Linked DNA regions of Homo sapiens. The protein of the gene in region 2 purifies or fractionates together with the protein of the main gene of each other region. This does not show direct contact. Each region holds a gene or a part of one and is shown on either strand. Other genes may lie near its edges. The genes, in order: DCBLD1, PCDH12 and CELSR1.

Evidence for each region.
Region 1: the proteins of PCDH12 (region 2) and DCBLD1 purify together in Homo sapiens (affinity purification with mass spectrometry; 2 studies listed by BioGRID and IntAct, with this or other methods). This does not show direct contact.
Region 3: the proteins of PCDH12 (region 2) and CELSR1 purify together in Homo sapiens (affinity purification with mass spectrometry; 2 studies listed by BioGRID and IntAct, with this or other methods). This does not show direct contact.

What each region holds. Positions count from the first base shown.
Region 1 is NC_000006.12:117,545,076-117,548,730, forward strand, and holds part of DCBLD1 (discoidin, CUB and LCCL domain-containing protein 1 isoform 1 precursor), read left to right. Parts: intron 1-402; coding exon 403-522; intron 523-2,526; coding exon of another isoform or gene 2,527-2,564; exon of another isoform or gene 2,565-2,831; coding exon 2,832-3,364; 3' UTR 3,365-3,655.
Region 2 is NC_000005.10:141,945,542-141,948,257, reverse strand, and holds part of PCDH12 (protocadherin-12 precursor), read left to right. Parts: intron 1-2,452; coding exon 2,453-2,716. UniProt on the Homo sapiens protein: Cellular adhesion molecule that may play an important role in cell-cell interactions at interendothelial junctions. Acts as a regulator of cell migration, probably via increasing cell-cell adhesion.
Region 3 is NC_000022.11:46,527,528-46,531,182, forward strand, and holds part of CELSR1 (cadherin EGF LAG seven-pass G-type receptor 1 isoform 1 precursor), read right to left. Parts: intron 1-3,655. UniProt on the Homo sapiens protein: Receptor that may have an important role in cell/cell signaling during nervous system formation.

The DNA.
Region 1 (3,655 bases), on a different chromosome or scaffold from region 2:
GAGGGCAGTGGGGCAGGACCCCTGAGAAAGCTCAGGGACCATTTGAGACTCCACCTCCCCAGGGTCTAAACACCAGCTGCAGTGTCTCCTCTGCCTCACAGATGCCATGCCAGTGCAGATTGTCGGAGACCATACCCAGATGATCTCACAAAGGGAGAATCTGGGACCTGATGAGGGCAAAATACCTTTTAAAGGCACAGCGGAAAGCATGGTTAGAGTAGTGTTTGCTGTTGTGGTTAATGACCTTGGCATGCTGTTCTTAGCACACACACCTGAGGAGGACATTGATCACTGTCAGCTGTCAGGAGGCAGCCTGACCTCTGACTCATCAAGGAACATGTTCTGGAGGACGCGCATTACATTTCTGACATATTCATTTGGTTTATGTTACCTTTATTCCAGACTGTTGGAAGCAGATTAAATATCCCTTTGCCAGACATCAGTCAGCTGAGTTTACCATCAGCTATGATAATGAGAAGGAGATGACACAAAAGTTAGATCTCATCACAAGTGATATGGCAGGTAAGTGTCATATTTCTAGGACTGTGCTATTAGATTGGAGGTGCTGCTTGTGGGGGAGGGAGACAGGAGAGAAATAAGGCAAAATCCTTTTCTATTTAGATAGGGTCCAGTAAATCTGAAATGTGTTTTTTCTGCATTCTGCACAGAATTACAAACTGACACTGAGATATTACTTAAAAGCCCTATTCAGCCAGTCTTTTCACCTGCAGGGGATATAGTGACATCCATAGTGATAGCCCTGATGTACTACTTGTATCTGGAAGCCCTGAATCTATTTTTGTTACCAAAGCTTTGATTAAGGCACTGGTACAGAGGGGCTGAAAGGAGGAATTAAATACAGTTCCTGCCCTGAGGAAGGTGAGATAGGAAATAAAGGAACTCTCTCAGTATGAGAAGGGCCTCAGTGTCCCTGACAAGCCACATCAAGAGTCGAGCTTCCCAAACCATCTATGGGGAAATGCTTTTTGTTTCTTTTTTTAAAATTTCTACTCCATCATGAATGAATACACTGTAAAATGCAATATAAAATACTAGTAATAAGGAAATTTTAAAGATACAAAATACAAAGCTCTAATTTTTTATTATTAGATTCAACAGACATAAAATTAAGAGTAATAAAGAGTAACTAAGAGTAGTTTCTTGACACTTAGTCTCAATTTCTGCACCTGTCTCTATGGCACTGCTAAAAACAGCTCTCAGATACATAGGACTCTGTGGGGCATGCTCTGAGTAGCACTGCGCTCTGGCTTCTCCCTCCTCACGTGCAGCCTGAGGACCTGCAGTATAGGCATCACCTGGGGGCTTGTTAGAAAGGGAGGCCATAGAACTAGAAGCTCCCAGGTGACGCCTGTGCACATCAGTGACTGGGAGTTGTCAGCCTAAGGGTTGGTTGAGTCACTTTGTGGACAAGGAGAGCATCCTCTGCAACCAAAATCCATCCTCTTGTTCCTTGGAAGTGACATGAAGGGAGAACCTAATTTCTGTTGTCTTATGCCTTTCATTCTCCTTCAGCTTCTAATTCAGTCTCTCCTCCCTCCTCCCTGAATGATCCTCAGGCTCCTTAAATGTGCAATGACCCGGGTTCTGTCTCACCCCCACTCACCACAGTCTCTCCCCTAAACAGTCCCACACCCTCCCCAACTTCCAGCAGTGCCCTTCCCTGCATGTTTGTCCATGCTGCTTCTCACACCCAGACTTCCCTCTCAGTCCCCAGTCCATAATTCTCAGCAGCCTGCTGGACACCTCCACCTGCAGATGTCACCCGTTCCTCAGCAACCACAATCGAATCCATTGTTCCTAACCCTCACCACAGATGCTCTGTGCATTCCTTGTCTAATGGCTTCTCGACTGCACATCCCAGCCTCAAAGAGTCCTTGCCTCCCGGCTTTCCTCACACCCCACCTCTCATTGGTAACAAATTCCTGATTCCTGTCCCAAAGGGTCACTTTTCCTCTTTCCTAGTTTGTGACTTCTATGTGCATTTCTCTTTGCTTTTTTACCTCTCACTTTTTGATCTTTTCCTCTTGGGTCAACCTCCACAGTTACCTCTGAAAGTGCCAGTCTTTCGTTTCCCATAGAATTAAACCAGACTTCCTAGCAAGACAATCAATGCTTTTCCATGCTCTAACGCGTGGCTAACAGCATATACTCAGGATGTGCGTTCGAATCCTACTCCATCGCCCCATTGTGTGACCTAGGAAAAGTTAGTCTCTCTCTGCCTTGGTTTCCCATTTGTAAAATGGAGTAACAGTTCCTACCTCGGGATTTTTTTGAAGATTATTAACATCTTGCTATTGGAATAGCGCCTGGCAAAGAGTAGGAGCTCTATAAATGGGAGCTCCTGGCATCATCCTCACTGTCACCACTAGGCCCTGACCTGTTGCTTTGGTCCTCATATCCTATTAAACAAACTACTCTGTGTCCCTCATACTCTGGCCATATCAACTCTATTTTCGAGGCTGTTTTTTTCTCCATTTCCACACTGTGTGACTTCCACCTCCATAGCTTCTCCAGAGCCAGTTTCAGAGCCACTTCCTCCCTGAAGTATGTCCCCATGCCCCAGGACGTCGTCGTCGCCCCCATCTCTGAGAAGACCCTGCGAAGCTTCCTGAGCAGGCGGTGCGGTTGTGTACTGCCTGCGGGTGGCTTCTGTGGCTTTCACATCAGGGTTTTCCGCAGTGCCTGGGACACCTGAGGGCACCCGGGGGGAAAGTCAGTCACCACGACCTGAAGCAGAGTATCCCCGTCTGCCACTGACAGGCCGGCCCGTGTGTGGTGCCCGCTAGCTGCCATCTGTCTTGTGGTTTCAGATTACCAGCAGCCCCTCATGATTGGCACCGGGACAGTCACGAGGAAGGGCTCCACCTTCCGGCCCATGGACACGGATGCCGAGGAGGCAGGGGTGAGCACCGATGCCGGCGGCCACTATGACTGCCCGCAGCGGGCCGGCCGCCACGAGTACGCGCTGCCCCTGGCGCCCCCGGAGCCCGAGTACGCCACGCCCATCGTGGAGCGGCACGTGCTGCGCGCCCACACGTTCTCTGCGCAGAGCGGCTACCGCGTCCCAGGGCCCCAGCCCGGCCACAAACACTCCCTCTCCTCGGGCGGCTTCTCCCCCGTAGCGGGTGTGGGCGCCCAGGACGGAGACTATCAAAGGCCACACAGCGCACAGCCTGCGGACAGGGGCTACGACCGGCCCAAAGCTGTCAGCGCCCTCGCCACCGAAAGCGGGCACCCTGACTCTCAGAAGCCCCCAACGCATCCCGGGACGAGTGACAGCTATTCTGCCCCCAGAGACTGCCTCACACCCCTCAACCAGACGGCCATGACTGCCCTTTTGTGAACACAATGTGAAAGAAGCCTGCTGTGGTACTGAGCGTCGGGCTGTCACAAGGCACTGGAAGAAGGGAGCCTGCTGGTCCAGAGTGTGCGTGTGTATCGGTGTGTGTGTACACTTGCATGTGTGTGTGTGATCCAGTAGGATCCTAGAGACAACCTGTCATACTGTTTACAAAATTGTGCAGCTGGTTTCGTGCTGACCCTTAGGGTGCGTCTGTTGGGTTTTGTTGGGCTAGAAAAATGAAAATTTTCAGATGGCGTTTTCATTCCTCTGACTGATATTGAGCTGCTTTGG
Region 2 (2,716 bases):
AAATCTTATGAGATAGGGGCTATTCATTATCCCCATTTCATAAAGGAAAAATGTGAGGGTCAGGGGTGTTTCATAATTTGCCCAAGGTTGTGCAGCTCGTGGATGGTTATTAACACAGGCAGTGTGGCTGTAAATTTTAGAGCTGTGTTGTTCAATGAGGTAGTCACTAGCGACAAGTGGCTATTTAAATTTAAGTGAATTAAAATTAAATAAAATAAAATATTCAGTTCTGCCATACCAGCCACATTTCAAGTGCTCACTGGCTATGTATGGCTGGGGGATATAGCTTTGGATTCTATCTCTATTGGTCAGCTCTGGCTGGAACCTGTGGGGTCAGTTCCCACACGGTCCTGCTTGCCCACAGCACAAAGGGTACTGAACACAGGGGCACTGTAAGGAGTTGGGGGTAAGGAAAGAGGAGGGGCAGAAAAGCCTTTGCTGCTCACAGGCTGGACTGCCATGGGGAGACTGGGATCTTGCTGCTTCAGATCTGCTTCAGATTGCTTCAGATTTGCTGCTTCGGATTCAGATTGCCCCACTTGAGAATGCGACCATGATAATGTTTTCCTGGTTGCATGAACTCACTGAACCTCACAACAACTCCACAAGATACGTACTACTGTCTCACCACTTCCTAAGAGGAAACGGGAGCTTAGAGAGGTTAAGCCATTTTCCCAAGGTCACACACACTGCCCCTAAGCTGCAAAGCTGGGAAATCAAACCCAGGTTGGCCCAGTGCCCACCTGCAGCTAGAACTGGTGGGTGATGCTGGGTGAATTCAGCATCACTTTTCAGCTGTTCTCATACGCCCCAGTGATTTTCTCATTCCAAGCTTCACTCCTTCTGAAGCTCTCTGACCCATGTAAAAGGAAAGGCCTGATTCTATAACACCAAGAGTTCCATCCAACCTTATAGCCTCAGAGTCTCAAGGAACTAAGGTTTGCATTTCCCAAATGTTGAAGGTTAATATTTATGTTCATTCAATCATTCAACAAACATTCACTAAGTCCCAGGCATGGGGCTAAACCCAAGGATCCAGTAGGGCAGGAGCCCAACAGTGTCTCACAAGCTGCACAGTCCAGAATGCAGGGCAGAGATTCATTTATCAGTACAATAAATGACTACACATACTTCGGAATAACTTGTTCAAATTACATAAGTAATATTTGGTTAATATAGAAAAACATAGATAAACAAAAAGAGAATGGATTGCTTCTGCCCAGAGGTAATTTCAGTTAACATTTTGACATATCTCCTTCCAGTCTTTCATTCTGTGCGCAGATTTTAAAGTAACTCACCTTAGGCAAACATTAGATAAATGTTAAGTAGATGTTGTGCTTTTTTTTTTTTTTTTAATTTTTTTAAGACACTGTTTCTTAACTCCAAGACTTATAATTTCTTTCCTCTGGCTTGGTCTCTACCATCAGGCCTGGGACTGGTTTCTTGAAACAGGATTTTCTGTTAAAGGGATGGGAAAAGAAGGGTGACTGTGGCATTGCAAATGTAGGGGCCAGTTTTTTGAATTCCCAGCCACCAGGCTGACTTGCCACCGCCACTACCCCAGTCCCTCTCCTGGGACAGCCCTTGGACAGGCAGCCCCTCCCCAGCCTGACTCTAGGCCAGGGTTCCAGCAGCTTGAGAGATGATGTTGAGGAGGATTTGAGGATCTGGGGCCAGGTGGTAACAGTGCAGACCTTAGGTAGCCTGGGAATTCCAGAGGCCCCAGCTGGGCACCTGGAGTATCCAGGGGGAGGAAGGGCCAGCTCTTCAGAGAGAGGGTAGGGTGGTGCCATCATAGGCTTCAAAGTCATCAGACCTGGCATCAAATTGAGGTTTGGTTGCCTAGCAGATGTGTGACTTAACTTCTTTCAGCTTCAGTTTCCTCATCCATCAAATGGGAATAATACTCTTGACCTCAAAGGTTTGTGAAGTTAAATGAAATAATTATGTAAATTGCTCATCACGTAAGTACCTAATATGTGGTCCCTATTATTATGGATGGGAACCAAAAAAGGCAGCGCTAAGTCAGGAACTCCAGCCTTGGCAAAGAAAAGGGATTTTCCCTCCATCCTCAGCTAGTGGAGCCCTGAGGGGAGAAGGCGCCCTGAGGGGTAAAAATCCTGGATGAAATATAGAAGACACTGAGACTGGAAACACACGCCCAGATTGGGAAATTCTTCAGAAATCGGCAAATTTCTACTTCTAGGCCTTCTCCTCCTCCTGCTGCTTCCCCACTTGGTTCGCCCGGGTGTGTCAGTCGACTGCTTTCCTACCCAGGGAGCTTCCCTGTCAGGGCCTCTTCCTTCCTGTCCCCGTCTGGCCACTCTGTCTGTCCCCTGCCATTTCCCTTCCCTCCTTTGTCCACTGCCCTTGCCCTGCTCATTGCCCCACCCTCACCCGCCTGGCCCTTCCCGGAGCCTGGCCCTCACTGTGTCCCCTCCTTCCCCCACAGGTCTGGCCCTGGACCGGCTGAGCGCCCCTGACCCGGCCTGGATGGCGAGACTCTCTTTGCCCCTCACCACCAACTACCGTGACAATGTGATCTCCCCGGATGCTGCAGCCACGGAGGAGCCAAGGACCTTCCAGACGTTCGGCAAGGCAGAGGCACCAGAGCTGAGCCCAACAGGCACGAGGCTGGCCAGCACCTTTGTCTCGGAGATGAGCTCACTGCTGGAGATGCTGCTGGAACAGCGCTCCAGCATGCCCGTGGAGGCCG
Region 3 (3,655 bases), on a different chromosome or scaffold from region 2:
GAGCTCAGCCCCCTTGCTCATCGGATGGTCCATCTCCACCCAGCCGCAGAAGTCAGGACCACACTGGCTCTCCCGGCTTTCGCACACAGCAGGTGCTCAATAAACAAACCAACACTCCTTATTTCTGAGGCAGTGTTTCTCAAGGTATGAGCAAGCCACTGTCTCCAGACTTATCAGAGCTCTGAAATGGTTAACTCATTGCCAAAAGCACTGAACTCTCCTGGGAAGGTTTGACACTGGCAGAATCCTGCTTGGCCACTGAAGCAATTTAAGATGGTCCGACCCAGGCTGGGAGCGGTGGCTCACGCCTGTAATCCCAGCATTTTGGGAGGCTGAGGCGGGCGGATAGCCTGAGGTCAGGAGTTGGAGACCAGCCTGGCCAGCATGGTGAAACCCCATCTCTACAAAAATACAAAAATTAGCCAGGCATGATGGCGGGTACCTATAATCCCAGCTACTTGGGAAGCTGAGGCAGCTGAGGCAGGAGAATCACTTGAACCCGGGAGGCAGAGGTTGCAGTGAGCCAAATCATGCCATTGCACTCCAGCCTGGGAGACAGAGCAAGACTGTCTCAAAAAAAAAAAAAAAAAGGTCCGATCCTTCCCTACCCTGTGAGTTCCAGAAAAGCACGCTGCCATGCATCCAGACAATGCCTGAACAGTAGCCCGCCCCTACTTCCTTCTTTGCAATCGTCTGTTTAAAAGCCACTGCAATATCCTGTATTTAACTAGGCAAACACTTAGGGAAGCTTTATCAAGCCTAGACGACTTTATACCATCCACTCTCCACCAAAGTCAACGGCGAGAAGGTTACTCAATCCTGTTATTTCACCGAGTTTCAGTATTTTCTGACATGCCTGAATGACTCATCCGCCAATCATTCTCACCCACAAACGCCACTTTCCTACATCCATGGGTCTGCAACACACACAGCAGGAGAGGCAGGGACATCGCCTTTCTCCCAAGCTCCGCATTCTGCAACAAGAGGCCTACAGCCCTGCACCCACGGACACACACTCAAAGTGAATTAAAAATGACGTGGCCCGGCCACAGATGACTGGAGAAAAGAAATGTGGTACATATATACCATGGTGTACTATTCCACTATAAAAAAGAATGAGGCCAGACGCGGTGGCTCACGCCTGTAATCCCAGCACTTTGGGAGGCTGAGGCGGGCGGATCACGAGGTCAGGAGATCGAGGCCATCCTGGTTAACACGGTGAAACCCTGTCTCTACTAAAAATACAAAAAAATCAGCCGGGCGTGGTGGCGGGCGCCTGTAGTCCCAGCTACTCGGGAGGCTGAGGCAGGAGAACGGCGTGAACCCGGGAGGCGGAGCTTGCAGTGAGCTGAGATCGCGCCACTGCACTCCAGCCTGGGCGACAGAGCGAGACTCTGTCTCAAAATAAAATAAAATAAAATAAAATAAAATAAAAATAAAAAAGAATGAGATCCTGGGCCGGGCACAGTGGCTCACGCCTATAATCCCACCACTTTGGGAGGCCAAGGCAGGTGGATCACGAGGTCAGGAGATCGACACCATCTTGGCTAACACGGTGAAACCCCGTCTCTACTAAAAATACAAAAAAATTAGCTGGGTGTGGTGGCGGGTACCTGTAGTCCCAGCTACTCAGGAGGCTGAGGCAGGAGAATGGTGTGAACCCAGGAGGCGGAGCTTGCAGTGAGCCGAGATGGTGCCACTGCACTCCAGCCTGGGCAGCAGAGTGAGACTCCATTTCAAAAAAAAAAAAGAATGAGATCCTGTCATTTGCAACAACCTGGATGGAACTGGAGGTCATTATGTTAAGTGAAATAAGCCAGGCACAGAAAAACAAATATCCCACGTTCACACTTGCTTGTGAGATCTAAAAATCAAAGCAATTGAACTCATGGGGACAGAGAATAGAAGAATGGTTACCAGAAGCTGGGAAGGGGGTAGCAGGAGGAAGGTGGATGGTCAATGGGTACAAAAAAATAGCTAAAAAAATGAATAAGGCCAGGCACAGTGGCTCACGCCTGTAATCCCAGCCCTTTGGGAGGCCAAGGCAGGCAGATCACTTGAGGTCAGGAGTTCGAGACCAGCCTGGCCAACATGGTGAAACCTTGTCTCTAAGAAACATACAAAAATTAGCTGGGTGTGGTGGCGTGCACCTGTAATCCAATGTACTCAGGAGGCTGAGGTAGGATAATCACTTGAACCCAGGAGGTAGAGGTTGCAGTGAGCCGAGATCATGTCACTGCACTCTAGGCTGGGAGATACAGTGAGACTCCATCTCAAAAAAAAAAAAAGAATAAGACCTAGTATTTAGCCCAACAGTGAGACTACAGTCAATAATAATTTAATTGTACATTCAAAAATAACTAAAAGAGTATAATTGGACTGTTTATAACACAAAGGATAAATGCTTGAGGGGATGGAGACCCCATTCTCCATGATGTGATCATTACACATTGCATGCCTGTGCCAGAATATCTCATGTACCTCATAAATACATACATCTAACCAGGCACAGTGGCTCATGCCTATAATTTCAGCACTTTGGGAGGCCAAGGCAGATGGATCACTTGAGCTCAGAGGTTGGAGACCAGACTGAATAACATAGTGAGACCTTGTCTCTATTACAAATAATTAAAAAAAAAATCAGCCAGGTGTGGTGGTGCAATGAGCTGAGATCAAGGCTGACATGAATCGTGATCATGCCACTGCACTCCAGCTGGGGCAAGAGAGCAAGACCCTGTCTCATACACACACACACACATATATATATACACACACATAAATTTGTGTATATAATTTATATATAATTCATTATAACATATATTATATATTATATATAATTCATTATATATAAATTGTTTTTCAAAAATAAAAATAAAACAAAGAATGTCAATGTTTCTGAAAGACCACTGTCCAGAAAGAAGGCAGAGCACATTCAAGGCTTGAGTTGTCCACTGGGTCATCAGCCACGTTGCCCTGAAAAACGCAAACACAGCCTTTATACAAGCTCATAATAAAAAGTTCCTATCACAGAATTTAAAATCTCATTCAAAAACTATCGCAAAAAATGAACATCTTGTATCGCTGGATGTCATTCAAAACTGGCAGCTATTTGAATTTCACTATCTTCTGACTTCAAAAAATTTTCAAAAAATGTTTTCTCCTTGGTGGGCTACATAAAACCACCAACAACTATCTAGTCACAGTCACAGTGTTCAACCCCACGCCAGGCTAAATGAACTGCCCCCACCACGTGGGCCTTCCCAGGCCCTGCCCTCCGATGCGCTCCTCCCTCCTGGGCTCCTCTGCTGAAAGCTGGCAGCCCTTCCTGGAATGGCTCCCACTAAACGTAGTCGATGGCTGGCCTGTTGCATACAGCACCTCCAGGCTGGTCATATTGCATCAAAGGCTTTAGGGCATGGCTGTAAATCCTGGGGAAGCAACAACACTCCATTGAAAACAGTGGATGAGTTTGAAACCACCGCTTCCCCGCATTGTTCCTTAATAAAACCTCCAGATAATTCAAGGGCTGATCTTTTTGTTTGGTCTGTTTTCTATCCGGTGCTTTGCTGTCTGGAACCATAGATCTTATAGTCAATAGTGATTTACTTATTTGGAGCATTAAATCCTAGTCGAATGGTCTGAGATTTCTGCGCAT